4 separate regions of the Homo sapiens genome follow, and regions 1, 3 and 4 are each linked to region 2. Evidence: fine-mapped expression QTL. A gene starts in region 2. Each other region holds a variant in brackets. All regions are shown on one strand. Distances are from middle to middle.

Region 1 (7,537 bases), 110 kb after region 2:
AATATACATGTCCTATTACATCAAATCACAACAAACAACTGTGTATCTTGCTTTATCTATTCGGTTACAGCAATATTACATTAACAGCTATTAACTAGCTTTTTTATTAATTAAAAATAACTACTAATAGGGTTTCTTGGTTGATCACCCAACTGAAACCTATCTTTCATAACAATATTCCCTTGAATAAACTTGATCCAGACCTGTAATATTCCTGCATTTTAACTACAATTTGCTAAGTGTCATTGGTATAAGGTCCGCTCCTCTCAGAATAACCAGAGTAAAAAAATCAGATAAATTAAGAAAACATTATAAAACCACTTGAAGAAAAATGTGTTTTCTTCTAAAGCCACATGTTAATATTCTTTGTGATACTTTTAATAATAGTTTTGAACTTTTTATGGCAGTTCAAAAGTCTGGAAGGCAGTTTTTCTTTCAAGCTATTTATTGGCATGACTTTTACACAGTTGAGTCATCATGAGTTTAACCTACTGAGTCACCTGCTTACAGCATCTGCCAACCACAATTTACTAACTGCAGCTTCCTCAAACTTAAACTGAAACAAACTCAGGAAGGCCTGGGAACTGTTTAATATTTTCCAAAGTAGTAACTGAAAATATTCCTCCAGCACAACCCAAGCTTTAAGAAGTAAAAAATTCCTGGGAAGCTGGGGAGGGAGGTCAACAACAAAAAAGAAGTAAAATTATATACTTGTATAAAGTATTCTACTGAAAATTCCTGTGCACAAACTAATACTGAGGCTGGGCATGGTGGCTCATGCCTGTAATACCAGCACTTTGAGAAGCTGAGGCAGGAAGATCATTTGAGGCCAGGTGTTCAAGACCAGCCTGGGAAACAGAGAGACCCTGTCTCTAAATATATATTTAAAAACAACTAATATTGAAATAGTATACATATACATCGTGTCAATGATTGATTCATACAGAACAAACACTGTTTTTGTTTTGTTTTGTTTTGTTTTTTTAAGACATCTTGCTCTTGTCCCCCAGGCTGGAGTGCAATGGCGCAATCTCGGCCCACTGCAACCTCCGCTTCCCAGGTTCAAGTGATTCTCCTGCCTCAGCCTCCCGAGTAGCTGGGATTACAGGTGCCTGCCACCATGCCCAGCTAATTTCTGTATTTTTAGTAGAGACAGGGTTTCACCATGTTGCCCAGGCTGGCCTCAAACTCCTGACCTCCGGTGATCTGCCCGCCTTGGCCTCCCAAAGAGCTGGGATTACAGGCGTGAGCCACTGTGCCTCGCCAAACACTCACTAAAAATTTTTTTTTAATATACAGTGCAATGAATGTAACTTCCAAATTAATACCACATCGAAGTTTTTTGGGCTGATTTTCACTTTTAGCATATAGTGCTATGGAAATGATGAATCTATAAATGAACTATAGTACCATACTTCTATTTTCTCAGAAAGAACGAATACAATCCAGTACAAATTGGAATGATCAGCAAGACTTGCTAGACTTGCCCAGTGACTTAGTCTTTTATGACACCTATTTGAGTCCATCCACTTCCTTCACTGAGGTCTTTGTAGAGCAATTACAAATACAGGTTGTATCCAAAATGCTTGGAGTCAGAAGTGTTTCAGATTTCAGATTTTTAAAAATTCTGTAACATTTGCATTACGCTTAGTAGTTGAGCACACATAATTAGAAAATCTGAAATCCAAAATGCTCCAATGAGCACTTCCTTTGAGTGTTTCAGATTCTGGGGTTTTTCAGATTTTAGATTTTTGGATTAGGGATACTCAACCTGTACATAAGAAATGTGTTAAATTACACAAAAAGAAAAAAAGGCGGCCAGGCACAGTGGCTCATGCCTGTAATCCTAGCACTTTGGGAGACCAAGGTGAGCAGATCACAAGGTCAAAACTTAGAGACCAGCCTGGCCAACACAGTGAAACCCCGTCTCTACTAAAAAAAAAAAAAAAAAAAAAAAAAAAAGCCGGGTATGGAGGCAGGTGCCTGTAATCCCAGCTACTTGGGAGGCTGAGGCATGAGAATCGCTTGAACCTGGGAGGTGGAGGTTGCAGCAAGCCAAGATTGTGCCACTGCACTCCAGCCTGGGTGACAGTGTGAGACTCCATCTCAAAAAAAAAAAAAAAGAAAAAAAGGAAGGAAGCTATAACTAAAATTCCAATGTATCATAATAGAAAAGCACATTAGCCACCTAGAATTTTTAAGGAAGGTATTATCCATAGTACTCTTTACGATGCCTTTCAGCATTTTTTTTTTACTGCTCCTAGAAAGTTTAACGTATTTAGAAAATTTAATTTAAAAAAGGGAAGAGAACATAAACTGAATGAAGCATATTAAATGCTTATTATAGTTTATCTTTAAAAAAGGAGTTTATATAACATAATTTGCTGAAATTCTATTAATTTTGAATAAAAATATTTAGAGTTCCTTCATGAAATAACATACTGAACATAAGGTCTTTAAATTAATACTCATGGTTATCTTTATATTATGATGCAGTTATAATCGATGTAAACTGTAACCTCTATAACAAATTGTTCCAGAAAGACAAAATTTTAGTTGTAACTGTTTTTTAGTTCTTCCATAACCTCATGCTGTCAAGCTGCCAATCTACCATCACCACTTTTTAAAGTGTTGGCTTCTCATATGCTATGGTAAGGGAAACTAGATTTGACAGCTTGTTGGAATTATGTTTGAAATAGTCTAAGTGTGGGACTAGGAGGCTCTCATTACTAAAATTTATTAGGAATATATTTCATTCAACAAGATTTTGAACACCTGGTATCAATTACTGTGCCAAGGCACTGGCAATATATCTAAGACAAAGTTCCTGACCTCAAGGATCTTACAATCCAGTGGAATTGAGACAGACACACAAATACGATACAGATTAAAGTATCTTTGTATCCTCTAGGATACAAAGGTGAGACAAAATGGGTTGGCGGGTGACCTAGTTAGGTGTGTCAGGAAAGGATTTACAGAGAAGGAAATATTTGAGTTGAGACTCAAGAAAAGTATGAAACCAAGGTTTTTGAGTTGGAACTTCAAAACTGCAAGGGCATCTGCCAGATAATAAGAGATCAGAAAAGAAGGTCTTTCAGACAGAGGAAAATTCATACGCAAGAATAGATGGGTGAAACAATATGGAATATAGGGACAAGTACACTGGTATGGATTGAATTAAGGACAGCAGAGTAGGTGAGGAAGAAAACTGAAAGACTGTAGTTTGGAGTGTTCTGTAATAGTCTAGGCGGGTAAGGATGGGAGCCTTACGATAGAGGAGAAGGGACAGATTAAGCAAAGTTAAAGAGGCAGAATTAGTAATTCTGGGAGACTAATATGTAAGGGCAAGAGAGAGACCTAAAACATTCCTACATGTTGATTTTTTTTTTGAGACTTGCGTCTCGCTCTGTCACCCAGGCTGGAGTGCTGTGGCACAATCTTGGCTCACTGCAACCTCCGTTTCCTGGGTTCAAGCAATTCTCCTGCCTCAGCCTCCTGAGTAGCTGGGACTACAGGCATGTGCCACCACACACGGCTAATTTTTGTATTTTTAGTAGAAACGGGGGTTTTGCCATGTTGGCCAGGATGGTCTCAAACTCTTGACCTCAGGTGATCCACCCACCTTGGCCTCCTAAGTGCTGGGATTATAGGCGTGAGCCACCGCTCCTGGCCCTACATGTTGATTTAAGTGACAAACTGGCATAGATGTGATTGATCTCATTAGCTGGGATACAGAATGATCAGGAAGAAAAACGAAATCAAGGTCTGATGGTTGAATGTGAATACAGTAAATAGACAGCAGAAGACATGGGTTTCACCTTTTCAATGATATCTACTCTGAACATTCTATTAAATATCTGCTTCTCCCCTCCCCAATCCTTATTGATCTTACACTGCTTTACATTTTCATTTTGTCATCGCATTTATTACATTGTATATCACACTATATAAGTTACTTATTACACTTATTATCTACCTGGCCTCTCCAGAATTTTAACTCCATGGGGGCAGGAAATTTTGTATGAATACTGCCTGGCACAGAGAAGATGCTTAGTAAACAGTTATTAAATAATGGTAGAGCAGAGAGGTCTGGAGTTTTGGATTCAGAAGACAGGGTTTTAAAAGACAGTGGAAATGTGACACGGCTTAGGGTGAGTAGTGAAATGGAAAAAACCAAAAAGGAACACTACAGAAAATAAGGAGCACTACAAAAAAAAATCACATAAACACTAAATCTTCTACAGAGAGAACAAACATACAGCAAAGACTGATTAAAAAAATAGGAAAACCTGAAGAGAAGTATCAGAGTAGCAACAGGAACAAAGAATTTCCAAAAGGACAGTGATCCAGTGTTAAATGCAAAGGTTCAGTAGGACAGTGATGCACACTTGAATATTAAATGCAGTAACTAAGAGATGATTAGCCATCTTAGCAACATCAGTTTTGTGAAGTGGAGGAAGAAACCAGGCTGCAATAACTGAAGATATTATTGGGAAGCAAGAAAATATAGATATAACGGTTCACATTATAAGAAGTCCAGCTATGAAGGAAAGGAGTAAGATAAGGCCATAACCAGACTGGGTGTGATAACTTTTAGTTTTTTATATTAGAGGGTTGAGTTTATATAATGAAAAGAAAAGCAATGAAAGAAAAATAGGCT[T/C]AAGATTTGGTAAACTTAGAAAAGTATCTGTGAAGACAGGTTCTAGAATACAAAAGATATTAGCTTTTTAAAACATAAGGCAGAGAGAGGAACAATTCCAAACGACTACAAAACACAATAAATTGAGTATATGACCAGCGGGATATCTCCTAAGGATAAAAAGAACTGGAACAAAAAAATACACTGTTTTCAGCAATTATACCATTGGTGGTAACCTTAGTATTGTTATTCTAAGTCTAGTGGTTACATAATGTAAGACAAAGCAAATGAGTAAGCCTATGATACTCTTATCATTCCTGGTGTTGCTGAGAAGTGGCGGTATTATAAAACATAAGTACTGTGAATGAGACTCGACTATAGAGCTAGACTGTTTTAATTTATGCACATACACACACACTTAGAAATTTAGGGGCAAAATAATACAGTGTGTGGGATCTGCTTTGAAATACGGATGCTCGACTTATGAAGGGGTTACATCCAGATAAACCCATCCTAAACTGAAAATATTAAGTTGAAAGCTCAGGAACATACTGAATGCTCCTTTTTCACCCTTGTGAAGTCAAAAAGTCCTAAGTCAAACTATCATACATAGGGGAATATCTATGACAGAAGACGAGCAGTAAAGTGAAACAATACTGGCCACAAATCGATAATTGTTAAAGCTGCATGCTACATGGAAGCACATTTTACTATTCTATAACTACATAGGTTTAAAATTATTTATATAAGGGAAAAAGTTTTATCATATTACTTTTCTGCTCAAAATGCTTCAAAGGCTTTCACTCCAAGCTTAATCAGAATAAAAAATAAAGTCTTTATAATAGCCTAAAAAGCCCAATTTAATTTACCCTTATAGCCTTTCTACATCATTTTCTACTAATTTTCACATAGTATGTTATTTTTTCAATCTTCTTGCTTTAGGGCCTATCCATTTTCTGTTACAACTGACACTTCCTGTCACTTTCCAGGCTTTACTTTTCTCCATAGTACTACTGTCTTCTAATATGCTAAACAGTTATTTTGTTTGCCATCTGTCTTTTCCCACAAGAAGGTAAGTTATAGGAGGCAACAAATTTTTGTTTTGTTTTGTTCATGGCTGTACCCTAAATACCTAAAGTAGTACCTGAGATGTAGCAGGTATCTAATACATATTTGTAAAACTGAAGTAGTAGAAGTTAAAACAGACACATCTCTAAGACAAGAGGAAAGCAGGTAAGGAGAGGTACAAAAATAGATATGAGAACAGGAAGCTAACGGGGTTCCTGCTTATAACCTCAATTTCCTTTGTGCAACAGGAGAAAGATCATCTATTAAGAGAAAAGGAGGAAGCTGAGTAAAGTAGTGATAATTTGGAATAATTACTTTAGGAAACAGAAGTTCACAGGGGCATGCGAAAAGAATGCCAAATGATATACTAAGGGCTAGGGTGATACTGGAGACAATACAATGGTACCAAAATACATGGATGTCATTTTCTGTGCAGTATTCAGCATTTAGAGGCTAAGTGGTTGAGAAGAATTTTCTACAGCATAAATGGTATATACATGCACTGTCCCACATACGATTATCTGGGCACTTGAAATGTGACCTGCACGACTGAAGAACTTTTTTAAAATTTAGTTTTATTTAATTTACGTTTAAATAGCCACATATGACTAGTAGCTACCAATAACGGACACAGCAGGTTTAGGATACATGAAAAAAGCAGGCCGGGCGTAGTGGCTCATACCTGTAATCCCAGCACTTTGGGAGGCCAAGGTGGGTGGATCATCTGAGGTCAGGAGTCTGACACCAGCCTGGCCAACATGGTGAAACAAACCCTGTCTCTTCTAAAAATACAAAAATTAGCTGGGCATGGTGGCACATGCCTGCAGTCCCAGCAACTTGAAAGGCTGAGGCAGGAGAATCACTTGAACCCAGGACGCGGAGGTTGCAGTGAAGCGAGACCACGCCACTGCACTCCAGCCTGGGCAACAGAGCGAGACTCTGTCTCAAAAACAAAAACAGATTACTTTTCTAATGAGTCTCTTGAAAGCACACAGAACAGAAACTGAGATTTACCCAAACAGACCTATTTATTTTCTTAACTCTGACCATATATATTCTCCTTATTAAAAAAAATTTAGAGTACAAAGTGTTTTCATATATATTACCTCATAGACAATGGCAATGATATCATACCTATTTTATAGATAAAAATAAAAATTTAAGTGGTTAAGTGGTTATATGCCTTTCATAGCATTTCAGATAGTAAGCAACAAAATTGGGAATGGAGTCCAAGATGGACTGTTGTTCTATTGCCAATTTCTGAGACTTTTAACAGATGTAAACTTTGACTTCTCTCAAAGAGCCAAAATACACTAACATAAATTATATATATATATATATATATAAATATATATATGGCTAGATAGGTATCTTTCAACAAAATCTCAATAGAATTTAGTAACTTATTCTACAATTGTTGTGAGCTGATTCTGGTTCTCTCTATATCTTAAAATTTGATTAATTTGGCCAGGCGTGGTGGCTCACGCCTGTAATCCTAGCACTTTGGGAGGCTGAGGTGGGAGTATCACCTGAGGTCGGGAGCTCGGGACCAGCCTGACCAACATGGAGAAGCCCCATCTCTACCAAAAATACAAAATTAGCCAGGCATGGTGGTGCATGCCTGTAATCCCAGCTACTTGGGAGGCTGAGGCAGAAGAATCGCTTGAACCTGGGAAGCGGAAGTTGCGCTGAGCCGAGATCACGCCATTGCACTCCAGCATGGGCAAGAAGAGCAAAATTCTGTCTCAAAAAAAATTTTTTTTCACTAATTTGTAAGCAACTTCTGATTTTAAATAATATTAGCAATAAATCAGTTCTCGAAGTTCTTGG
Region 2 (7,537 bases):
TTGATTTGCTTTAGATACAATGCCTCTGGTAGTCTCAATAATGGTCCGAAAGATACCCAGGTCCTAATCTGTGGAAGCTGAGAATGTTACCTCATATGGCAAAGGGACTTTGTAGGTATGATTAAGTTAACCTTGAGATAGGAAGACTATCTTTAACTATTTTGTGGACCAAATGTATTCACAGGGTCCTTACTAGAGGGAGGCAGAAGGATTTTAAGAGGAAATGACATGACAAAAGCAGCAAGAGCTTTGAAGATGCAGTGCTGCTGGCTTTGAAGATGGAAGAAGGGGCTGTGAGTCAAAGGAATGCAAAGAATGTAGCTCCAGAGGCTGGAAAAGAAGGGGGCAAGGCCTTGCTGTATACCTTTGTTTTGGCGCTATGAAATTATTTTGGTCTTGGCCGGGCATGGTGGCTCACGCCTGTAATCACAGCACTTTGGGAGGCCGAGGAGGGTGATTCACGAGGTCAGGAGATCGAGACCATCCTGGCTAACACGGTGAAACCCCGTCTCTACTAAAAATACAAAAAATTAGCCAGGCGAGGTGGCAGGCGCCTGTAGTCCCAGCTATGTGGGAGGCTGAGGCAGGAGAATGGCGTGAACCCCGGGGGTGGAGCCTGCAGTGAGCCAAGATCGAGCCACTGCACTCCAGCCTGGGTGAAAGAGCGAGACTCCGTCTCAAAAAAAAAAAAAAATTATTTTGGTCTTCTAGCCTCCAGAACTGCTAGCCTCCAAATTTCTGTTGTTTTAATCCACTAAATGGGTAGTAACTTCTTACAGCAGTCATAGGAAATTAATACAGTGCCCAAGATAGAACTTTTCATTTTCCATACAAATTAGCTCCTTCCTATTGTTACCAGGGGGTCTTTGTTCTTAGAGCTCCCAAGATGGTGGCAGGCCACTTCCAAGATGGCGGCAAGCCTTTTGTTCTCTGACCTGGGGTTCTTGGCCTCACGGATTCCAAGGAATGGAACCTTGGGCCATGCAGTGAGTGTTATAGCTCTATTAGAAGCCGTGGGTCACAGAAGAGAACCGTGGAACCCAGCAACTAGTGTTCAGCTCGATTAGGACAAACCCTGGGCACTTAGCCTTGCAGGAACAATGGCGAGCCTCTAGCCCGATTGGGAGCAGCAATGGGCGCCTCGCTGGATCAGGAGCACAGTGGACACCCTGATGGATCCAGAGGGGTGGAAGTCAGCGGCGGGTCTGTGATGGCAGCAAACAGCGGTGGTGGACGGTGAGTGAAAGCTCAGCTCAAGCTGTAACAAACATGGACCAGAAGAGTGTGCAGTTGCAAGATTTAATAGAGTGAAAACAGAGCTCCCATACAATGGGAGGGGACCCAAAGGGGGTTGCCACTCCCTGCTCGAATGCCTGGGTTTATATCCTGATCATTGTCCCTCCCCCTGTGCTCTCAGGCGATATATGATTTGACTATTTCTTTACCTTCTGCTTCTAGCCTAATTTGTATTTTAGTGAGCCCTCTTTACTACCTGATTAGTCGGGTGTGAACTGAGTTACAAGCCCTGTGTTTAAATGTGGGTGTGGTCACCTTCCCCAGCTAGGTTTAGGAATTCTTAGTTGGCCTAGGAAATCCAGCTAGTCCTGTCTCTCACTATCTTGTCCACTTGGTTGTTTACTTTTTTATTTTTTTATTTTTAGAGACAGAGTCTCTCTGTGTCACCCAGGCTGGAATGCAGTGGTGTGATTGGTCTCAGCTCACTGCAACCTCTGCCTTCCAGGTTCAAGCAATTCTCCTGCCTCAGTCTCCCCAGTAGCTGGGATTACAGGCACGCGCCACCACACTTGGCTACGTTTTAGTGCTTTTAGTAGAGATGAAGTTTCACCACGTTGGCCAGACCAGTCTCAAACTCCTGGCCTCAAGTGATCTGCTCTCCTTGACCTCCCAAAGAGCTGGGATTACAGGGGTGAGCCAGTGTGCTAGGCCACTTGGTTGTTTAAATACGAGATTTGATTCTTCCATTTTCTGTATGCTTTACTGCCATTCCATCACTAACTCCTCTCAACCTGATGCCCAAAAATATATCTTGAATATATCTACTTCTCTTCCAAGGTTTCCGGCACATGGTAGAAACATGATAACTATGTAATGAGTGGATGCATGACCCAATCTTCCCTACTTCCATTCCAGTCTGAGCGCCCATAATTAGTCAATCAACTAGCTTGTCTTGGTTCTTTTTCCTTAGGCCTTCCACAATCTATTCTTCACATTACAGGGAAATTAATCTTTTCAAAACTGTAAATTAAAGCAGATTATTCTCTAGCTTAATATCCTTTACTTATTTCCCAATGCACTTTGAGTAAAATTCAAATGTTTCATTGTGCACTGCAAGGACACCTATGTTTTGGAAGTTTCCTATCTCTCTGGTATCTTCTTTTGCATCTCTCTGAAATGCTGCAGCTCCCGCCACCCGACCTCCCCGCCTTTAGAGTTGAGGCATAAGACATTTCCTTTGTCGAGAAGGGTCTTTGTTTAACTGGCATTTTAAGGTTTAATCTTAAAGATTACGCCCTTAGCCAGGTGCGGTAGCTCATGCCTATAATCCCATCAGTTTGTGAGGTCCAGGAGGGCGGATCATTGAGCTCACTTGAGCTCAGCAGTTCAAGATCAGCATAGGCAACATGGCGAAACCCCATCTCTACAAAAAATACAAAAATTAACCTGGCCTGAGCACTTGTAGTTCCTAGCTACTTAAGAGACTGAGGTGTGAGGATCGCCTGGGGCAGGGGGCGGGCAGAGGGAGGTTGCAGTGAGTGGAGATTGCGTCAGCAAGACACTTTCTCAAAAAAAATCACGCCCCCCATGAAAGGCTTTCCTTTACCACCCAACTCCACCTTGGTTACTCTATCACAGCTCCCTATGTGTTCCCTTTCCAGCATAAATCACAACTATTTGTCAGTGAATTCCATGACAGAACGAACCTAGCTTTTGTTTGGCACATAATTGTTAAATGAATGCAGTATTATATTTGGCTAGACCAAAATTGTTTCCCTATCAGTTTGTGAGCAACTTGAGGGCAGAGCCCTAAATCATTCGAGTGTGCTGACCTCTAGGGGGGTTAGTCCAGTGCATGGTCTAGAATTGCTCAAATCGGCCTTTTGAAAAAATGAATCATGTACAATGATAAAGGTGTGGACAGGACCACAAGTAACGGTGTAACGATTAGCAGATTTAAGGAAAAGTCAGTCTAAAAGGAAACGTGAGAAGCTAATTGCAGAAGACAGCCATTTCAAGTCTTCAACAGCAAGGCTGTACCTCCTCACGTGACTTCAGTGTAGACTTTAAGAACCTAAACTAACGCTTCTCGCGAGAGGAAAGATTGACCGCTCGCAAGCGTACATCAGCTGGTGCCCCGCCTTCCCTGGGCCCCACCCACTGCCTGTCCTCATTCCCACCTTGAACCAGCCTTTTGCGCGTGTGACGTCATGGCGCCGTGCGTGGCCTCGGCGGTGGCGCAGGGGGCGGGCCCGCGGCGCGGCGCCGGAGGAGGAAGTGGTGAGGTTGTTGCTCCTTCAGCGCCTATCGCTGGCTCTTGGGGCGCAGAGAGGGGCCGCAGTCTCCGCGGCTGCGTCGAGCTCCCTTGCAGTCCCCTCCATGTTCCCCGGCGCCACTACTCCCCTTCCTAAGGCCGCCGCTTACCCCGGGGTCTATGGAAGTAATGGAAGGACCCCTCAACCTGGTGAGTGTCCCACAGAATATAGCGTTCGTCTTGGGTGCCTTTGCCTCAGGAGCCCGGCCCCGTCCCCGGCGCGTCGGCTAACCCTTTAGGCTGGGAGGTTGGTTTGGCAGGAGTGGTCGCAGAGGCTGTGAGGGGCTGCTAGGCAGGCCCTGGCCCAACTGCGGCTCCAGGCTAGCCACTTCAGACTTTGCCCTCCTGGGGGATCCCCGGGAAGTCCTGGCGCCCCCTGTCGCGGGGCCCCGGGCGAGGGGATGCCACCACCTGGGGCTGCCACCTCCTCTCTGGCTGGGGGAAGTCCTCTTAGCGCCACGTAGCCACCTCCCTACAGCCTGGAGAGGCACTGAAGCCGGCCAAGGCAGAAATGGTGTGATACTGGTTTTAAGTTCTAGCAGCAGGGTCTGAGTCTGAGTCGCCCCGCTTTGGAGAGGTGGAGGAGTGAATAGCCTCCTCACCCTCCACTTCCCCCTCCTCACCCTTCACTTCCCCCTCCTCACCCTCCACTTCCCCCTCCTCACCCTCCACTTCCCCCTCATTTCTCACATACATTCACATGCATAAACTGAGTCTACCGTCTTCCAAATATATTAGAGACAGCTGGGAAAAAGACAGCCGTTCCTGTATTTAGCTCAGATTCATCAATTTAGGCATCATGAAAGTGTAATAGGTGTTTGCTGTTCTCAGGAAAATGGCTGATAGCCTGTTTACTTGTGTTTTAAGGCGTTTCAGGTGTTGCAATTAAAAAACAACACAACAGAACCCCACTAACAACGGGAAGCATGAGTTCTTTTCAGACTGGCCATTGCATCTTTTAGTTTTCCAGAGAGGTTACCCATTTTGGATGTAAAAGTCAGATTACTTAAGGTTGCACACAGGAAGAACTTTTGAGTCACAGGTTTGCAATTCATTTGCGATGGTGGAATTGAAAGAAAGCTCTATAGAGGATTCTTTTCTCACATTAGAACTCTGAGTCCTAGAAGAGCAGTAGAGTCAGGTGGTTTAAGACTCTAGGTTTTGAAGCTATGCTGCTTGGATTTGAATTCTAACCTCGTCACTTGATATCTGTGTTACCTTGGGCAAACTACTTGGCTTCACTCGGCTTCAGGTTTTTTGGGAGGATTAAAGGAGTAAATAGGTGTAAAGCACTTAGAACTGTACTAAGTACATAGTACAGTGTAAGAGTTAGCGATTATAACCAGACCATAAGCCCTTAATTTAAAATCTATTTGTAGAATAAAGGTTTGGACTTGAGCTTTAAAAGCCTAAGATTCTCGGACCAAATCACTGGTGCCAGGTTAACTGTTGTGAGGCGCCCCTCCCTTTTAAGTTGGGTCTTGCCCCAGGTGGTAGGTATTTACACTTAAGACGAATTGGACTACATTTGCGAGTTTTTTTTAACCAGGGAACTGGCCAGGCGCCGGGGCTCACGCCTGTAATCCCAGCACTTTGGGAGGCCGAGGCGGGCGAATCACTTGAGCTTAGAAGTTCGAGACCAGCCTGGGCAACATGGCGAAACCCGGTCTCTACAAAAAATACAAAAATAGCCTGGCGTGGTGGCGCCCGCCTGTGGTCCCAGCTACTCGGGAGGCTGAGGTGGCAGGATCGCTTGAGCCCAGGAGGTGGAGGTTGCAGTGGGCCGAGATTGTGCCACTGCACTCCAACCTGGGCGACAGAGCGAGACTCTGACTCAAATAACCAGGGAACTGTCTTGCACTTTTCTTGTTTTTAAGGCGACATATAGTTGGCAATGAAATACAGTGGATGGCTCAATACTGAAACTTCACAGGAGTATTACTAGAAATAATCAGCTGTTTACGAAGTGCTTCAGAGTTCAGGTGTCCTTGCCAAATGAGCATTGGTTCAGTTCTAGTTAGCTTCACATTATTTGGCTGCAGAATAACCCCCGCCAACTGCCCCACGAATGTGTGATGTTTTAAAAGGAGACTAGAACTGGGTGACAGTTGCAGATAGAACTGCAGAATCACTACCAGTTCAGGAAAAATTAGTTAAATGGTGGCAATACCATTTAAATTCTCCTCCATAAAACGGAGCGAGTTTCGACAGAGTCTTTTTAAGCAGGCTAGCGTAACTCCGTATTTCAGCCATAAAATTTATGTAGGCAAGTATCAGAAATTTGGCATCTTGAATTCTTTTTTTTTTTTTTTTTTGAGATGGAGTCTCTCTCTGTCACCAGACTAGAGTGCAGTGGCGCGATCTCAGCTCACTGCAACCTCCGACTCCCTGGTTTAAGCGATTCTTCTGCCTCAGCCTTCTGAGTAGCTGGGATTTCAGGCACGCGCCGCCACGCCCAGCTAATTTTTGTATTTTTAGTAGAGACGGGGTTTCACCATGTTGGCCAGGATGGTCTCGATCTCCTGACCTCGTGATCCCCCCGCCTGGCCTCCCAAAGTGCTGGGATTACAGGCGTGAGCCAGCGTGCCCGGCGGACACCTTGAATTCTTAAACCATTTGAGTCTTGAAAGATCTAATTTCCAGCATAGTTGTTTATTGGAAGGTAACAGTAGAACAGACGTTGACGGTTACTTGAATGAGTACCAATTACAGGCCTCTGGCACTCAGAATTGTCACTCACAGTTTTATAAGATGAGGTTTTTGAAAATTCAGACTTTTTTTTTTTTTTTTTTTCTTTTTTGAGACGGAGTCTCGCTTTGTCACCCAGGCTAGAGTGCAGTGGTGCGATCTGGGCTCACTGCAGCCTCCACCTCCCGGGTTCAAGCAGTTCTCTGCCTCAGCCTCCTGAGTAGCTGGGATTACAGGCATGCACCACCCTGCCCGGCTATGAAAATTCTGACATTCTTTTATGTCAGTGAACACCTAACTTAGTATCTAGTTGACTCAAGATGAGAGTTCTCAATGCTATAATTTGAATGTCTTTGAAAATTCCACTAGTATTATACAAGCTTTTTCTTTTTCTATACTCAGAGAGTTACTAATGCAATAAGCTTTGTCAAATGACGTCGTAGTGTAGTCCAAATTCATTGTATAAGGACTTATCACAGTACATGGATTTGTAATCATGTGTCCTCAGAGCATCCTCGGAACTTAGTAAGGTGTGTTTTCCAGTTTTACAGATAAATAAGCCTAAGCTGAGAGAATTAGGTAATTACTTAGGTCAGTAACTTAAATACATTATGAATCACGAGTTATTTTGATATCAAGACCTCTTTCTAGCAATGCTGCCATATTGTACTCATCATGTTCATTTCAGTATGGTTCTCATCTATATTGAACTGTAGATTCTGTGTTAGCATTTATTACCTCTGCTCCAGTATTGATTCTTTTATGTTAGGTTTGGCAGTAAGGGCCTTAGAAATTCCTCACAGTGAATTTTTAAGATCTGGAAGAGACTAGTTTGAAATATTCATTTTAATATGTACCACAGAGGTAATGGATTCTAATTATCTGGTTATTGAAGTTTGTCAAAAGAAAAATTGTACTTCCACTGAAGAAAAAAATAGCTAGTCTTTGCACTCTGAATAACTTTGTTTCATTAGGGTTTTTTGGTCAATTTTTCTTTAAGAGACAGGGTCTTACTCTGTTGCCCACACTCAAGGGATCCTCCTGCCTGAGCCCTCCACAATAGCTGGGACTACAGGTTTGCACCACCATGCCCAGCTAATTTTTTCAAAAACTTTTTGTGGAGATGGGGTCTTGCTGTGTTGCCCAAGCTGGTCTTGAACTCCTGGCCTCAAGCAATCTTCCTGTCTCAGCCTCCCAAAGTGTTGGGATTACAGGCATGTGCCACTGTGCCCAGCCTGTCAGTTTTAAATATGGAAAAATTATAACTTATAAAATTAGTGTATATTTAGATATTTCTTT
Region 3 (7,537 bases), 260 kb after region 2:
AAAAGATTCACTATTGTAAAGAATAAACTCTCTTTGGATGCAGGCTAACCCTAAAAAATGTGAAACATACACACATACACAGACACACACACACACACACCCCAAAAAGAGTAAGTTATCTCCCAAATCAACAGCCCTGAAGGAAAACACAAGGTACTAGCCGGACCCCACCCTCCCTAGCAGTGGGGTAACTAGGCATTTTCATATGCCCTAAATACAAACTTCACAGACCCCAGAATCTGTACTGTGGGCTACTGCTGCCAGGGTCAACACCCTAGCAAAGTGCACCTGCCCAGTTACCAGTTGCCTGCCTACAGCTGCTCCAACAGAAAGCAACCCACCTTCCCCAGTAGCAGGGCTGCAACATGATGGCTGGAGCCCTCACCTGACCATTCCACTGGTAGTCTGGGGATCATGCCACCCCTGTTGACCACAGCCAGTGCCTGCACAAACAATCAGGGAACCTGAGGACGGGTCTGCTCATCCAAGCTCAGCCCCCTCCAGTATGTAAGCACATTGCTCAGGGTCTGGAGATTACCTTGCTTAGTCTACCACCATTGGTACCTGAGCACTTTTTCCAGGGGCCAGGGTCCATTCAACTGACCACTATCACCAAAGCTGACACCCACCCACATGTGGGCACCTGCAGCAGGCCTGGAGACTGATTTAGTCAGCCTGTCACAACCTCTGCCAACACCAAAGTGAAATGCTTGGGTTCCAGGGGGTTGTCTTGCCACTGCTACTGACATCAACTATGCCACGCCTACCGCCCAGGGCCCAGTAACCTGCCCACTCATTCACCCCACTACTGCCATTCCTGGCACCCAAGCAAGCTGCCTGGAAGCCCAAGAATCGACCTGCACAGACCCACTAACTCTGGTGGCAGCATACGCCACACTGAAGCCCCAAAACAGACATGATCTTCTGACTAACACCAAAGGAGCCCAAAGTGGCCCATGTGGCAACCCATTCCCTAATAAAATGTCACCACAGCTTCCATTAAGAACCACCCACTAAACCACAGAAGAAATCACAGACAACACTGACCCTGTTTAATGCCTAAAAAAATCACATGGAGTCTACACCACTGCATATATCCAGAATCAAAGCAAAAGTGCCCTACCCAACCAACACCACAGATACATCTCTAGGAAAAATTCCTCCCCTATGAAAGGAAATTCAAACTATTGGAAGAAGTGACTGTCAATACCTGATGCATAGATATCAATGTAGAAATAAAAGAAACAAGAAGAAGCAAGAAAATGTGAATCCATGATAATAAATTCAAAGGAACACAGTAATTCTCCAACAACAGATTCCAATCAAAAAGAAATTTATAAAATCTTGGAATTGAAAATATTGATACTAAAGTATTCTGTTACACTGAGACACAAAGAAAATAATACAAAGAAAAGAAAAACAATTCAGGATATGAATGAAAAATTCACCAAAGAGACAGCATAAAAAAGGATGAAACAAATTCGGGACCTGATGTATTCATCGAATCAAACAAAATACATTCAAACCTTCAACAGACTAGATCAAATAGAAGAAAAAAATCTCAGAACTTGACAGACCTTTTGAAATAACCCAGTCAGAAGAAAAAAGAAAAAAAAAATTTTTTTTTTTTTTTTTTTTTTTTGAGACGGAGTCTCGCTCTGTCGCCCAGGCTACAGTGCAGTGGCGTGATCTCAGCTCACTGCCAGCTCCACCTCCTGGGTTCCTGCCATTCTCCTGCCTCAGCCTCCGGAGTAGCTGGGACTACAGGTGCCCACCACCATGCCCGGCTAATTTTTTGTATTTTTAGTAGAGACGGGGTTTCACCGTGTTAGCCAGGATGGTCTTGATCTCCTGACCTTGTGATCTGCCTGTCTCAGCCTCCCAAAGTGCTGGGATTACAGGCGTGAGCCACTGCGCCTGGCCGAAAAAAGAAAATTTAAATTTCCTTAAAGAACGAGCAAATCCTCATCACATATAGGACATCATAAAGCTACCAAATTTTCAAATTTTTTGTGTTTGAGGAGGCAACAAGAAAACTTGAAGGGCTAGAAAGTCTGTTTAACAAAATAATAGATGAAAACTTCGCAAGGCTGGCAAAAAGTTTAGATACTCAGATAAAGCACAAAGATCCCCAAAGGTATATAACTCAAAAATATCTTTTCCAGAGCACCTTATAGTAAAAATGTCACTAAGTCAAAGACAGAGAATTCTTTAAAAAGCAAGACATAACTATCTAGTCACTTATTAATGAACCCCAATCAGACTAACGGCAGTTTCTCTGCACAATCCTTACAGGGCAGAAGACAATGGGATAATAGGTTCAAAAAGCTGAAGGAGAAAAAAAAAAAAGCCGAATATACTATACCAAACAATGTTATCCTTCATAAATGATGGGGAAATAAAGTCTTTCCTAAACAAGTAAAAGCAAGAAAATTCATCATCACTAGACCAAATCTACAAGAAATGCTTAAAGGAGTCTGATGCTGGGAAAATAAAGAATGGTATCTATCATCATGAAAACACACAGAATATAAACCCCAGTGGTAGAGCAAATACAATCAAGGAAGAGAAAAGCCTCAAACGATAGCACTACAGAAAACCACCAAACCACAATGTTAACAAGAAGAGAGAAAGGAACAATGAATACACAAAACAACCAGAAATTAAGTAATAGAATAACAGGAATAAGCCCTCACATGTTAATAATAAAACAGATTAAAGTGTCAGACTAGTTGAAATGATTTAAAATAATGGCACAACTATATGCTGCCCAAAAGAAACTCATCTCCCCTATAAAGGTACATATAAACTGAAAGTAAAGGAATACAAAAGACATTCCATGCAAATAGAAACCAAAAGTGGGGAGAAGTAGCTACAATTAAACAGTCAAAAGCAGTAAAAGGAGACAAGGTAATTATATAACGATAAAAGAGATTGATTCATCAAGAAAATATAACAATTCTAAACATATATGCACCAAACAGCAGAGGACCCAGATGTATAAAGCAAATATTATTAGACCTCAATGGAGACCAGGTGTGCTGGCTTACACCTGTAATCCCAGCACTTTGGGAGGCCAAGGTGGGCAGATCACCTGAGGTCAGGAGTTCAAGACAAGCCTGGCCAACATGGTGAAACCCTATCTCTACTAAAAATACAAAAATTGGTGACATGCCTGTAATCCCAGCTACTCAGGAGGCTGAGGCAGGAGAACCGCTTGAACCTGGAAGGCAGAGGTTACAGTGAGCTGAGATCGTGCCAATACAGTCCAGCCTGGGTGACAAAGTGAGACCCTGTCT[C/CA]AAAAAAAAAAAAAAAAAGAAAAAGAAAAAAGATCTAAATGGAGAGAAAGAGTACAATAATAATTGGGGTTTCCAACAACCCACTCTTAGCATTAGGGAGATCATCTAGTCATCTAGACAGAATTTTGTTTTTCTTTTTTTTTTCCTTTTTTTTTTTTCCCAAAAACTCACTGCATGCTAACAGACAGAAAATTAGCAAAGAAACATTAGATTTAAACTGCACATTAGACCAAATGGACCTAACAAACATTTATAGAACATTTCATCCCACAGCTAAAGAACACATATTCTTCTCACCAGCAAATGGAAGATTCTCCCAGATAGACCATATTTTTGGACACAAATAGAGTCTCAACAAATTTTTAAAAATTAGAATTGTATCAAACCCTCAGACCACAATGAAATAAAACTAGAAATCAACAAAGAGGAACTTTGGGAAGTGTACGAATACATGGAAAGTGAACAACATGCTCCTAAATGACCACTAGGTCAAGAAAGAAACTAAGGATGAAATCAAATGTAGCTTTACAATAAATAAAAATCAATTCAAAACATACCAAAATCTAGAGAATATTTAATAAAGTAGTGCTAAGATGGAAGTTCATAATTAATACCTATAACCAAAAAGTAACAGAATTTCAAATACAGTGTCAAACCATACATCCCATGAAAACAGAATAGAACACGGCAAGCCCAAAATTAACAGAAGGAAAGAAACAATTAAGATCAAGAAGAAACAAATGCAACAGATACTAACAAAATACAAAGGATCAATGAAATGAAAAACTGTTTTTTGAAGAGATAAACAAAATCAATTAACTGCTTGTTGAGAATAAACAACAAAAAAGGATACCCAAATAAACAAAATCAGAAACGAAAAAAGAGAAATTACAACTGATACCACAGAAATACAAAAGATCATCAGAGACCATTATGAACAACTATACAAAAACAAACTGGAAAACCTTGAAGAAATGGATAAATTCCTGGACACATACAACTACCAAGATTGAATCAGGAAGAAATAGAAAATCTAAACAAACTAATAACAAGTAATGAGGTAAAATTAGTAGTAAAAAATCTCCCAAAAAAGAAGAGTTCAGGATCAGATGGCCCCACTGCAGAACTCTATCAAACTTTGAAACAACTAACACCACTTCTCCTCAAACTAGTCCAAAAAACTGAAGAGGAGGGAATTCTTCCTAATTTATTCTAAGAGGCCAGCATTATATTACCCTAATACCAAAACCAGACAAGAATGCTACAACAACAACAACAACAAAATAAAACTACAGGCCAATATCTCTGATGAACATACATACAAAAATTCTTATCAAAATAGAAAACCAAATTCAACAGCACATCAAAAACATCAAGATCAAGTGAAAATTTTCCCAGGGATGCAAGGATGGTTCAACATATGTAAATCGACAGTCATGAATCATCTTAATAGGCACAGAAGAAGTATTTGATAAAATTCAACATCCCTTCATAATAAAAACTCTCAACATTCTAAGCACAGATGAAAAATACCTCAACATAATAAAGGCCACTTGTGACAAACAACAGCTAGCATAATATTGAATGGGGAAAACTGACAACCTTCCCTTTAAGAACTGGAACAAAACAAAAAAGCCGCCACTCTCTTCACTCCTATCCAACATAATACTGCAAGTCCTAGCCAGAGCAATCAGGCAAAATAAGGAAATAAAGGCATCCAAATTGGGAAAGAAGAAGTCAATGTGTCCCTCTTTGAGAATAATGTGACTGTGTATCTAGGAAAACCTAAAGATCCCACCAAAAACCTCATAGAACTGATCAATTCAGTAAAGTTGCAAGATAAAAAAATCAACAAGCAAAAATCAGTAGCATTTCTATATACCAATAATGCAATAGCTGAGAAACATATCAAGAAGGTGGCCAGGCGTGGTGGCTGATGCCTGTAATCCCAGCACTTTGGGAGGCCGAGGCGGGTGGATCATGAGGTCAGGAGATGGAAACCATCCTGGCTAACACGGTGAAACCCCGTCTCTACTAAAAATACAAAAAATTAGCTGGGCATGGTGGCGGGTGCCTGTAGTCCCAGCCACTTGGGAGGCTGAGGCAGGAGAATGGTGTGAACTCGGGAGGCAGAGCTTGCAGTGAGCCATGATTGCGCCACTGCACTCCAGTCTGGGCGACAGAGTGAGACTCCGTCTCAACAACAACAACAACAACAACAACAACAACAAAAAAGACAATTCCATTTATAATACCTAAAGAAAAAACATCCATGAATAAATGTACCCCAAAAGGGAAAAGATGCCTACAATGAAAACTACAAAACAGATGAATGAAACTGAAGACACAAATAGAAAGACATCCCATGCTCAAAAGAAGAATTAACATCATTAAAATGATCATATTGTCTGAAGCGATACAAAGATTCAATGCAATCCTTATCAAAATACCAACATCATTTTTCACAGAAATAGAGAAAACAATCCTAAAATTCCTATGGAAGTAAAAAAGAGCCTAAGGAGCCAAAGCAATCCTGAGCAAAAAGAACAAAACTGAAGGAATCACACTACACTACCCGACTTTAAAATATATTACAAGCCTACAGTGGCCAAAATAGGATGGTATTGGTTAAATTAAAATCATGTACTAACCAGGCTTTAAACCAAAAGTAAAAGTTGCTAACAGTGTAACATGTATTTAAAACCACTGATTTCTTTCACTGTCGCAATTTCCTCAGTTACAATTTTGCAAACACCGTCTCACAGCCAACAGATTTTTCACTAAGGTTCCAAGAACACACAACACATTATGGAAAAAACAACCATTTTGATAATTGGTATGTGAAAAACTGGATATCCACATGAAATGAAACTGGACCCCTATCTCTCACCGTATACAAAATTCAACTCAGGATGGATTAAAAACTTAAAACATAAGACCCAAACTATAAAACTACTAGAAGAAAACAAAGGGAGAACACTTTAGGACACAGATTTATGCAAAGATTTTATGGCTAAGACCTGAAACTCCAGAGGCGATATAAATAATGATAAATGCGACTATATTAAACTGCACAGTTCTGCACGGCAAAGGAAACAATCAACAGAATGAAGAGACAACCTGTTGAATGGAAGAAAGTATTTGCAAGCTACTCATCGCACAAGTGACTAATAATTCAGAATATATGAGAAACTCAACAGTTTAAAAAAAAATCCCATTAAAAAGTGGGCAAAAGGCCGGGCATGGTGGCTCATGCCTGTAATCCCAGAACTTTAGGAGGCCGAGGTGGGTGGATCATGAGGTCAAGAAATCAAGACCATTCTGGCCAACACGGTGAAACCCCATCTCTACTAAAAATACAAAAATTAGCTGGGCGTGGTGGCATGCACCTGTAATCCCAGCTACTCGGGAGGCTGAAGCAAGAGAACTGCTTGAACACGGGAGGCAGAGGTTGCAGTGAGCCGAGATCACGCCACTGCCCTCTAGCCTGGTGACAGAGCGAGACTTCGTCTCCAAAAAAAAAAAAAAAAAAAAAAGGTGGGCAAAAAAGTACATAAACACACACACACACACACACACACACACACACACACACACACGTGAGCAAAGGACATAAACAGACATTTCTCAAAAGACAACATACAAACAGCCAACACCGTATATGAAAAAAATGAGTCCAGGAGCAGCGGCCCATGCCTGTAATCCAAGCACTTCCAGAGGCCAAGTTAGGGAGATCACCTGCGCCCAGGAGTTTGAGGCCAGCCTGGGCAACATGGTGAAACCCCGTCTCTACAAAAAATACAAAAAATTAGCCGGATGTGGTGGTGGACAACTGTAGTCCCAGCTAATCAGGAGACTGAGGTGGGAGAATCACTTGAGCCTGAGTTGATGAGGCTGAAGTGACCTGTGATCGCACCACTGTACTCCAGCCTGGGCAACAGAGTGAGATCCTGTCTCAAAAGTGAAAAAGAAAATAAAATGCTCAACAACATGAATCATCAGGGAAATGTATATATCTTAACCACAACGAGATCTTACTCGAGTGAGAAAGGCTACTATTAAAAAGACAAAAAATAACAGATGCTGGTGAGGATGTAGAGAAAAGGGTACTCTCATATACTGTTGACGGGAATATAAATTAGTACAGTCATTAGGAAAAACAGTATGGGGACTTCTGAAAACACTAAAAATATAACTACCATATGGTTCATCAATCTCACTACTGGGTATTTATCCAA
Region 4 (7,537 bases), 420 kb after region 2:
TCCAGATCTTGGTTTCAAATACCATTTTCCAATAAAAGGAATAAAGGCTCCTTAGAGACATGTTGATTCTAGGAATGGGCAGGAAATATACATGATGAGCCTGCAGCATCTTGTAGTGCCAGAAAGTAAAGAAAGTGCTCAAACAAAAACAATGTAGGTATGTCGTAGGGACACAGGACATTGAGAAAGATCCCAGTGACCCAAGGAGATCTGGAACAATTTAAGCAGCAAAATAAAGTAGTATTGGATTATACCATCCAAAGCATAAAATAAATATCATGAGTCCATACTCATATAAATAAATGAATACAGGAGAATAGGTAAATCTCTCCTGGAGAAGAATCCATATAATTTATGTAGATACTCTGCCCTCAAGGAAATGGAGCATCACTCCCCACTCCTTAAGGCTGTACATAGTGACTTTCTGCCAAAAAACGTGGTATGTAAATCTGGGGAGGGGCGCCAGTAACTTTACCTAACATATACTACCTCAGCCACATCATCTTTGTGATATTACTCCCAAAAACCCATGACCTGAGTCTAATCTTGAGAAAAATTTCAGACAAATGTCCCTAATTGAGGGACATTCTAAAAAATACTTAAGTAGCACTCCTCAAAACTATCAAGGCTATCAAAACTCAGGCTTGAGAAACTTAGTGAGGAGCTTGGGAAAACATGATGAGTAAACATGATATGGTAAATGGATGGGATCCCAGATGGGATCCTGGAAAAGAAATGAGACCTTAGGAAAAACCAGGAAAATTTGAATAAAGTATGGACTTCAATTAATAACGATATATTATTATTAGTTTCTTAATTGTGGCAAATGTGTCATACCAATGTAAAATTTTAAGAATAAGAGAAATCAGTTGTGGAGTTTATGGGAACTATCTGTACTATCTTCACACTTTTTCTGCAAAACTGTTCTAAAATTAAAATTTTATTTTAAAAGAGTAAGTGGCCAACATTATGGCATTTCTGTCTTAATTATTATATCTCCTAAATAAGGCATTATCTTATATAGTCACAAGACAAATATCACTTAAGAAATACAGCACTGGGGCCGGGCACAGTGGCTCACGCCTGTAATCCCAGCACTTTGGGAGGCCGAGGCAGGTGGATCACGAGGTCAGGAGATCAAGACCATCCTGGCTAACACGGTGAAACCCTGTCTTTACTAAAAATACAAAAAAAAAAAAATTAGCTGGGTGTGGTGGCACATACCTGTAGTTCCAGCTACTCGGGAGGCTGAAGCAGGAGAATGGCATGAATTCAGGAGGCGGAGCCTGCAGTGAGCCGAGATTTTGCCCCTGCACTCCAGCCTGGACCACAGAGCAAGACTCCGTCTCAAAAAAAAAAGAAAGAAATATAACATTGATGAACTATTAATACCTAAAGTAGTTCATATCCAAAATACCCAAGTTGCCCAAGTAGTGCCTTATGTAGCTACCTGGTTATTGTTTTTAATACAGAATCCAATCAAATAGCATTGCATCTTATTGTCATTTCTCTTTTTTCTCCCTAGCAGAACAGTGCCCTCATGATGAGGAATTTTAACACCCCTTCTTTTCAGTTGATAGATGGACTGCCCTTCATTTAATCACTTGTATATGTTTCTTTAGGGAGGAAAAAAGTAGTAAAGTTAGGATTGGTGGAGATTATACCATTTCTCAAGTAGGATCATCCCAGACTGCCTTTGAGTGACGTTTCATTAGACACAGGGGGCTTGCTAGTGCCAAGCAGCCAGTCTGCTGGTTTTGTGCTGTAATTACTGATGTCAGAATTAAATTAGGTGGTAGTGTAGTTCTTGTGGCACATGTTTGTTTCTTTTTCTGTCAGGTTGTCCCAGATAGAAATAAAGTTCCCACCTCTCTGATTTTCTTGTAGTAAGAAAGTACTTAGACATTGTCTTTGTCAGTTGACCATCTCAAGAGAACATGGAGAATACTCACAAATGCTTTTACAATGACTTAATTTTTATGTTCTGGTTGTTACTTCTGTAATGTAACTTCTGTTATTGTTCACTTACTTTACAAAATAAGAAGACCAAACCTTTTTTTAAAGCCCCGTTAATGAAAGACAGTAAACAGGCAGTGTGGCTCTGAGAGGAGGGAGAGCTCACAACATGAAGAGCGAGATTGTTCTAGCTACAGGGAGTGGCATGGGAAAAAATTACTGTGTTGGAGATGCTGGAGGTATTAGAGTGATTTGAATAAATGGAATGAAGGAAGTGGTTTAAGAAATATGAAAATAGAATGTTTTGGTTTCCAAATCATCACAAATTTAATTTTCATTAAAAAGCGATAGCAAGTTCACTGATGTATCCCTAGTGATAGAAAAACACAGTGCCTTGACATGTAGTATGCCGTCAGTGATACCTGTTATTGTTTAATGGAGACTTAAAAGATTGTTTGAAAGCAAAATATTAAATTAACCTGGTGAAGCGTTTTCATGCTCATTGGTGAAGTGCCTGTAGGTGACTGTAGCTTAGACTGTACATTAGGTATGAATGTTCTATGGGAGGGCTTGGCCAGAATTTTATATCTGAGTTCAGTTTAGAGAAGTTCACTTTGTGGTCATGTGATACTGAATGAATTGCACAGAATAGGGTAGAATTTGTGTTTATGGCTTTCCTTACTCATCCTCCTTTAATTTGTAGAGACGGATGTATTTCAGGAGAGGAAATTTTTTGCAATGTTTTCACAATTGTTTGTACATGTTTTTTCTTCACCAGAAGCTTTTTAAAACTTAGATTGGCCGGGGGCGGTGGCTCACGCCTATTTGTAATCCCAGCACTTTGGGAGGCCGAGGCGGTTGGATCACAAGGTCAGGAGATCGAGACCATCCTGGCTAACACGGTAAAACCACGTCTCTACTAAAAATACAAAAAATTAGCTGGGCGTGGTGGCAGGCGCCTGTAGTCCCAGCTACTCAGGAGGCTGAGGCAGGAGAATGGCGTGAACCCGGGAGGCAGAGCTTGCAGTGAGTGGAGATCGCACCACTGCCCTCCAGCCTGGGTGACAGAGCAAGACTCCGTCTCAAAAAAAAAAAAAAACCTTAGATTGCAATTGAACTTTCACGTTATCTTTAAGTCAGTGGGCCTAATGGTAAGTTCAAATTTTACACATCCTGTGCTTAAGGGGCTAAATAAAGTAAACAACTCCTCTGAGTCAAGAGTTACTCAGGAATCAGGAATTGGTCAGATCATGAGTAATCATTTGATAGGAATTAAAGGGTGTGATGATTGTTGATTAAAGACATGCATATTCCTTTATGTAGACTTAGTATACAATCAGAAAATGGGTCTCAGATATTTTTTTTATATGACAGTAGTATGCCTGTGGAATTACAATTGTTTAGAGAACTTCGGAATATTGACATCATCGAACTGTTAATATTGGGGATCTGCTATGAGCTATACATTGTATGAAATACAGGTTTTCTTTGGGGGA[C/G]AGTTTTTTGGTATAGAGGAAAGAGCACAGGTCTTCAAATTAGAAGTTCTATGTTTTGGCTTTAACACTTGCTATGTGCTTAATTCATAAGATCATTAATCTCTCTAAGCCTTACTTTTATCATCTGTAGAACTAGAACAATAGCACCTACCTCGCCTATGAATTTTCTGTGTGTAATGACAATCAGGATGGAAAAATTGCAGCTGGAAAACTGTGGAGTGCTGTAGATTGTAGGGACCATTGTCTTCTTTCAGCCCTATGAGCCATTCTGTGGTACTCTACCCACAGGATGCTGAGTTACTGGAGTGCTTCAAGGGTTTGTAGCCCTTGATTCTACAGTGTACTCTGTTCCAAGTTCAGCATTCTTCTAAACATTTTTTTGTTGGGGTCTACCACATGGTAGGCCCTTGTGGTTGTAGTGGGGCGTGGCTAGTGGGGAGAGAGTGAGGAGATGAGGAAGTTTGAGTCTGAGTTGCTGTAGCTTGATTTTTTTTCCCCTCTAGTTTCATCTTTACCTTTCCTTTTAGAATAGAAATTATAGGCTCTGGAGTAAAATTAGAAATGTAGCTCCAATTTAGCTAAGTTTAGCTCTAACATGAAAATTCCAAGTTTCATAGCTTTTGATGAGTATTATGAAAAACATAAAGTCTTTCAAAGGAATTTCCACTGTCTTTTTCTCTCCTTCATGGTTTTAAACATGGGGACCTTTGGTTATAGAATTCAGGATTTGGGGCTGTTGTTGTTTTTTTCCCCATGGGTTTGACTCTTTCTCCTTGTATGGAATTTTCATATTTTTCTTTAAGGTTTAGTCACTTAACCATTGTTTTACTAAATGGGAATTCTCTACTGACAGAGATTTTTAGCAACAAATGTATTTTTCTTAAAATTTGTGTAAGACAAAAATTACATATTATTTTGGCAGTGATCATGCATGACCTTTGCTACCTGATGGCTGCCATGGCAGAAAAACTCATGTAGGAAGTTTATCACAGGGAGAATATACACAGGTACCTTGGTTATCAGTAGACTTTGCACTACTTGTAACCATTTAGTCTACTCTTTGTAACTCTCTCTTCTTTTATCATGATGTCTTACATTTATTTTTGCATCTAAGTGAAGGATAGAGCGTGGCAAAAGTCCAGATAACCTATAATGACTTTCACATTACTTTAAAAAATCCAGTTAACCAACGTACTGTACTGACAACATATTGCTTAATCATAATCAGTTTTAATCCAACACCAAACTAAGCATAATATTGTCACACATTGGTTTGTTGAAGATGCAGAATTTAGAAATTCAGATCCTTGAGCCCTACTGCCAAAAATCCTCCTTCCCAGTTGATTATTTTACATAGACAGGTTTGGGAGCTACTGAACCATTTGTAAGGGGCACTTTTCAAATAATTGTCAAGGGTTTAAAATTCATCAGAGGATTCTACAATCAGTGAAAATAAGTTGTCTTAGGAACCTGTTAACTGCATTTATCTCTTTATTTATGAAGTTCCTAAGAAACATTTCCTCTGGGGGAAAAATGCTACCTTGAAAAAAAACCAGAAAACCATTCTTATAAACTATTTCTGGGATTCCTCATTGAGATTAAGATTCTGATTTTATTTTATTATTTATTTATTTATTTGAGACAGAGTCGCTCTGTCACCCACTGCAACAGAGCTCACTGCAACCTCCGCTTCCCAGGTTTAAGCGATTCTCCTGCCTCAGCCTCCCAAGTAGCTGGGATTACAGGCGCGGGCCACCATGCCCGACTAATTTTTTTTTTTGTATCTTTAGTAGAGACAGGGTTTCACCATGTTGGTCAGGCTGGTCTCGAACTCCTGACCTCAAATGATCCGCCCACCTTGGCCTCCCAAAGTGCTGGGATTACAGGCGTGAGCCACCATGCCTGGCCTATGATTCTATTTTTTAAATTCATTACAGTCTATATTAATATTAGAGAACTAATACTCAAACAGAATTTGAGTGAACTATTATAAATGACAGAAAAATTTGCCCTCTCTCTTAATTTTACATGAAATCATTTTTAAAATTGGTGGGGTTTTTGTTTTGTTTTGTTTTGTTTTGTTTTGTTTTCTGTTTGCTTGTTTTTTTTTTTGTTGTTTTGTTTTTTTTTTTTTTTTTTTGAGACGGAGTCTCGCTCTGTCGCCCAGGCTGGAGTGCAGTGGCGGGATCTCGGCTCACTGCAAGCTCCGCCTCCCGGGTTCACGCCATTCTCCTGCCTCAGCCTCCCAAGTAGCTGGGACTACAGGCGCCCGCCACTACGCCCGGCTAATTTTTTGTATTTTTAGTAGAGACGGGGTTTCACCGTTTTAGCCGGGATGGTCTCGATCTCCTGACCTCGTGATCCGCCCGCCTCGGCCTCCCAAAGTGCTGGGATTACAGGCGTGAGCCACCGCGCCCGGCCTTTGCTTGTTTTTTGATCCCAGGGTCAAGCCAGGAAACTTGGTTGTTATAATGGGCTGCCTTTTTGATTTCACTAAATTCTGTGAATTCTCCCTATGTATAGTGTTCCATTGTCCTCCCAATAAAAACATACTATAGTTTCCCTTGGCTAAAACCCATGTAGGCAGTGGTGTGCCGGTAATGCTTGACAACTGAGGGAAAGAGGACTGATTCATACAATTTGCTAATTTCTGTGATGTAAAGTACTGCCTACAATAGCCTAGTTCAAGCTCGCAGCGTGACCTCACTGAATGTGGAGCTGGAAAGAAATGCACACAGCACACTTAGTATTTCTAGTATTTCCACCATACAGATAGAATAGAAGTATATAACTTGAAGAGCATAGTAAAATGTAAAATAATTAGGAATAAATATAATTAGAAAATAATGAGTTTTTGACTATTTCCCTTTGTCTTTAATAAATGTTATATGTATAACTTATCTTACTGTTTGGATACCAAATAAACTGTTTCCATGCTTATCTTTGGGAAATGCCACTGTTTCAAAATGGGAGGTTTTTGCTTAGCGTTTTCTTCCTTATTCTATTGTTTAAATTAATTACCTACGTTAAATTTATCAACAACAAAGAAGAAGCTCTCCAGGTGATTTTGACGTGTTGCAGGGTTGGGGACCAGTCTTTTCTTGGTTTGCCTGGCACCTTAGAGCTGCATTTTGTGCTTAATTACACTGACTACTACATTTTAACTGTTTATGCTCTGTTATGTTCTTTCAAATGATTTGAGAATTTTTTTTCCAAATTGATATGTTAAATTATAAAGAAAAATAACAGAATTGAGACTAGAAAATAGCAATCAAAGAAAATAAAAATTTGGTGAGTACAAATATAAATATGCCAGTTCTGAGGACCACAAGTGTTGATATAGTAGAACAACAGATTTGATTCTGAGTTTCCTGGCAACCCATGGAGGGAAGCAAGGAATAATATAATTCTTTTCAGATGGAAGGAAGGCATCAATTTCTCAAAGAAAGCTAAGCATTGCATTGTACTGAATTTCAGAGTAAATCTCTCATATGAAATTTCATATGTAGGGATACTGACTAATAAAATAGTGCCGTATTTCTCTACTTCTTATGGATTTTATAGAGCAGATTATTATAATATACTTCAAAAAAATCAAGAATGTAGTATGACTTTCCCCCCAAAGGAGACAGGTGTAATAATTTAGGAATATAACCTAGTAATCAAGTTAGAATAACATCACCTAGAGGAATAAAGATTTACAACAATGTTGGCAAAAGATGACAGATAGGTTTACCTAGCTCCTGTCCTTGGTTAGCGTGAGGTTATGGTGCTGTGTTGACAAGAATTCTGAGACCAGGGTCAGCAGAAACAAATGTAGGGAATGCCTAGCAATCTCTGACTTGATCACAAGAAGGAGGAGTAGCACAGTTACCTCTGCATCTTTGCCATCCTTACTTCACATCTTATGTAAATTTCATGGGTTTTAGATGGTATCTCTAGTATAAACTGGATTACTAATGGAGTTTATACTCTTCGATAAGAGGCTGGAGGCCAGGCACAGTGGTTCACACCTGCAATCCCAGCACTTTGGGAGGCCGAGGCAGACAGATTGCTTGAGACCAGGAGTTTGAGCCCAGCCTGGC

Alleles and levels. Positions count from the first base shown, and alleles are read on the strand shown. Sizes are in standard deviations (SD) of each study's normalised expression. Not every link is listed here.
In carriers of allele C in region 3, the expression in subcutaneous fat of the gene that starts at base 3,528 in region 2 tends to be higher than with CA alone (moderate effect, 0.42 SD a copy in FUSION).
In carriers of allele C in region 4, the expression in monocytes of the gene that starts at base 3,528 in region 2 tends to be higher than with G alone (large effect, 1.3 SD a copy in BLUEPRINT).

What was found. PIP is the estimated chance that this variant, and not a neighbour inherited with it, causes the effect.
Region 1: its variant is the best candidate, but not a certain one, in a credible set for the expression of NRBF2 in whole blood (INTERVAL, PIP 0.62).
Region 3: its variant is the best candidate, but not a certain one, in a credible set for the expression of NRBF2 in subcutaneous fat (FUSION, PIP 0.78).
Region 4: its variant is the best candidate, but not a certain one, in a credible set for the expression of NRBF2 in monocytes (BLUEPRINT, PIP 0.64).

The regions. Positions count from the first base shown.
Region 1 is chr10:63,236,073-63,243,609 of GRCh38, forward strand. The region is part of intron 3 of JMJD1C (jumonji domain containing 1C); the gene reads right to left. Among named protein-coding and RNA genes, the nearest start is that of NRBF2, 110 kb to the left of the region's middle. RefSeq lists an enhancer at 4,654-5,190. The variant T/C (reference allele first, on the strand shown) is at 4,661.
Region 2 is chr10:63,129,801-63,137,337 of GRCh38, forward strand. It overlaps NRBF2 (nuclear receptor binding factor 2), which reads left to right and starts at 3,528. Exons shown (of 4, transcript NM_030759.5): 1 at 3,528-3,700. The coding sequence starts at 3,671. RefSeq lists silencers at 3,345-3,594, 3,805-4,074.
Region 3 is chr10:63,386,012-63,393,548 of GRCh38, forward strand. The region is part of intron 1 of JMJD1C (jumonji domain containing 1C); the gene reads right to left. Among named protein-coding and RNA genes, the nearest start is that of MIR1296, 17 kb to the left of the region's middle. The variant C/CA (reference allele first, on the strand shown) is at 3,300.
Region 4 is chr10:63,551,062-63,558,598 of GRCh38, forward strand. All of the region lies in intron 1 of REEP3 (receptor accessory protein 3), which reads left to right. Among named protein-coding and RNA genes, the nearest start is that of REEP3, 33 kb to the left of the region's middle. The variant C/G (reference allele first, on the strand shown) is at 3,453.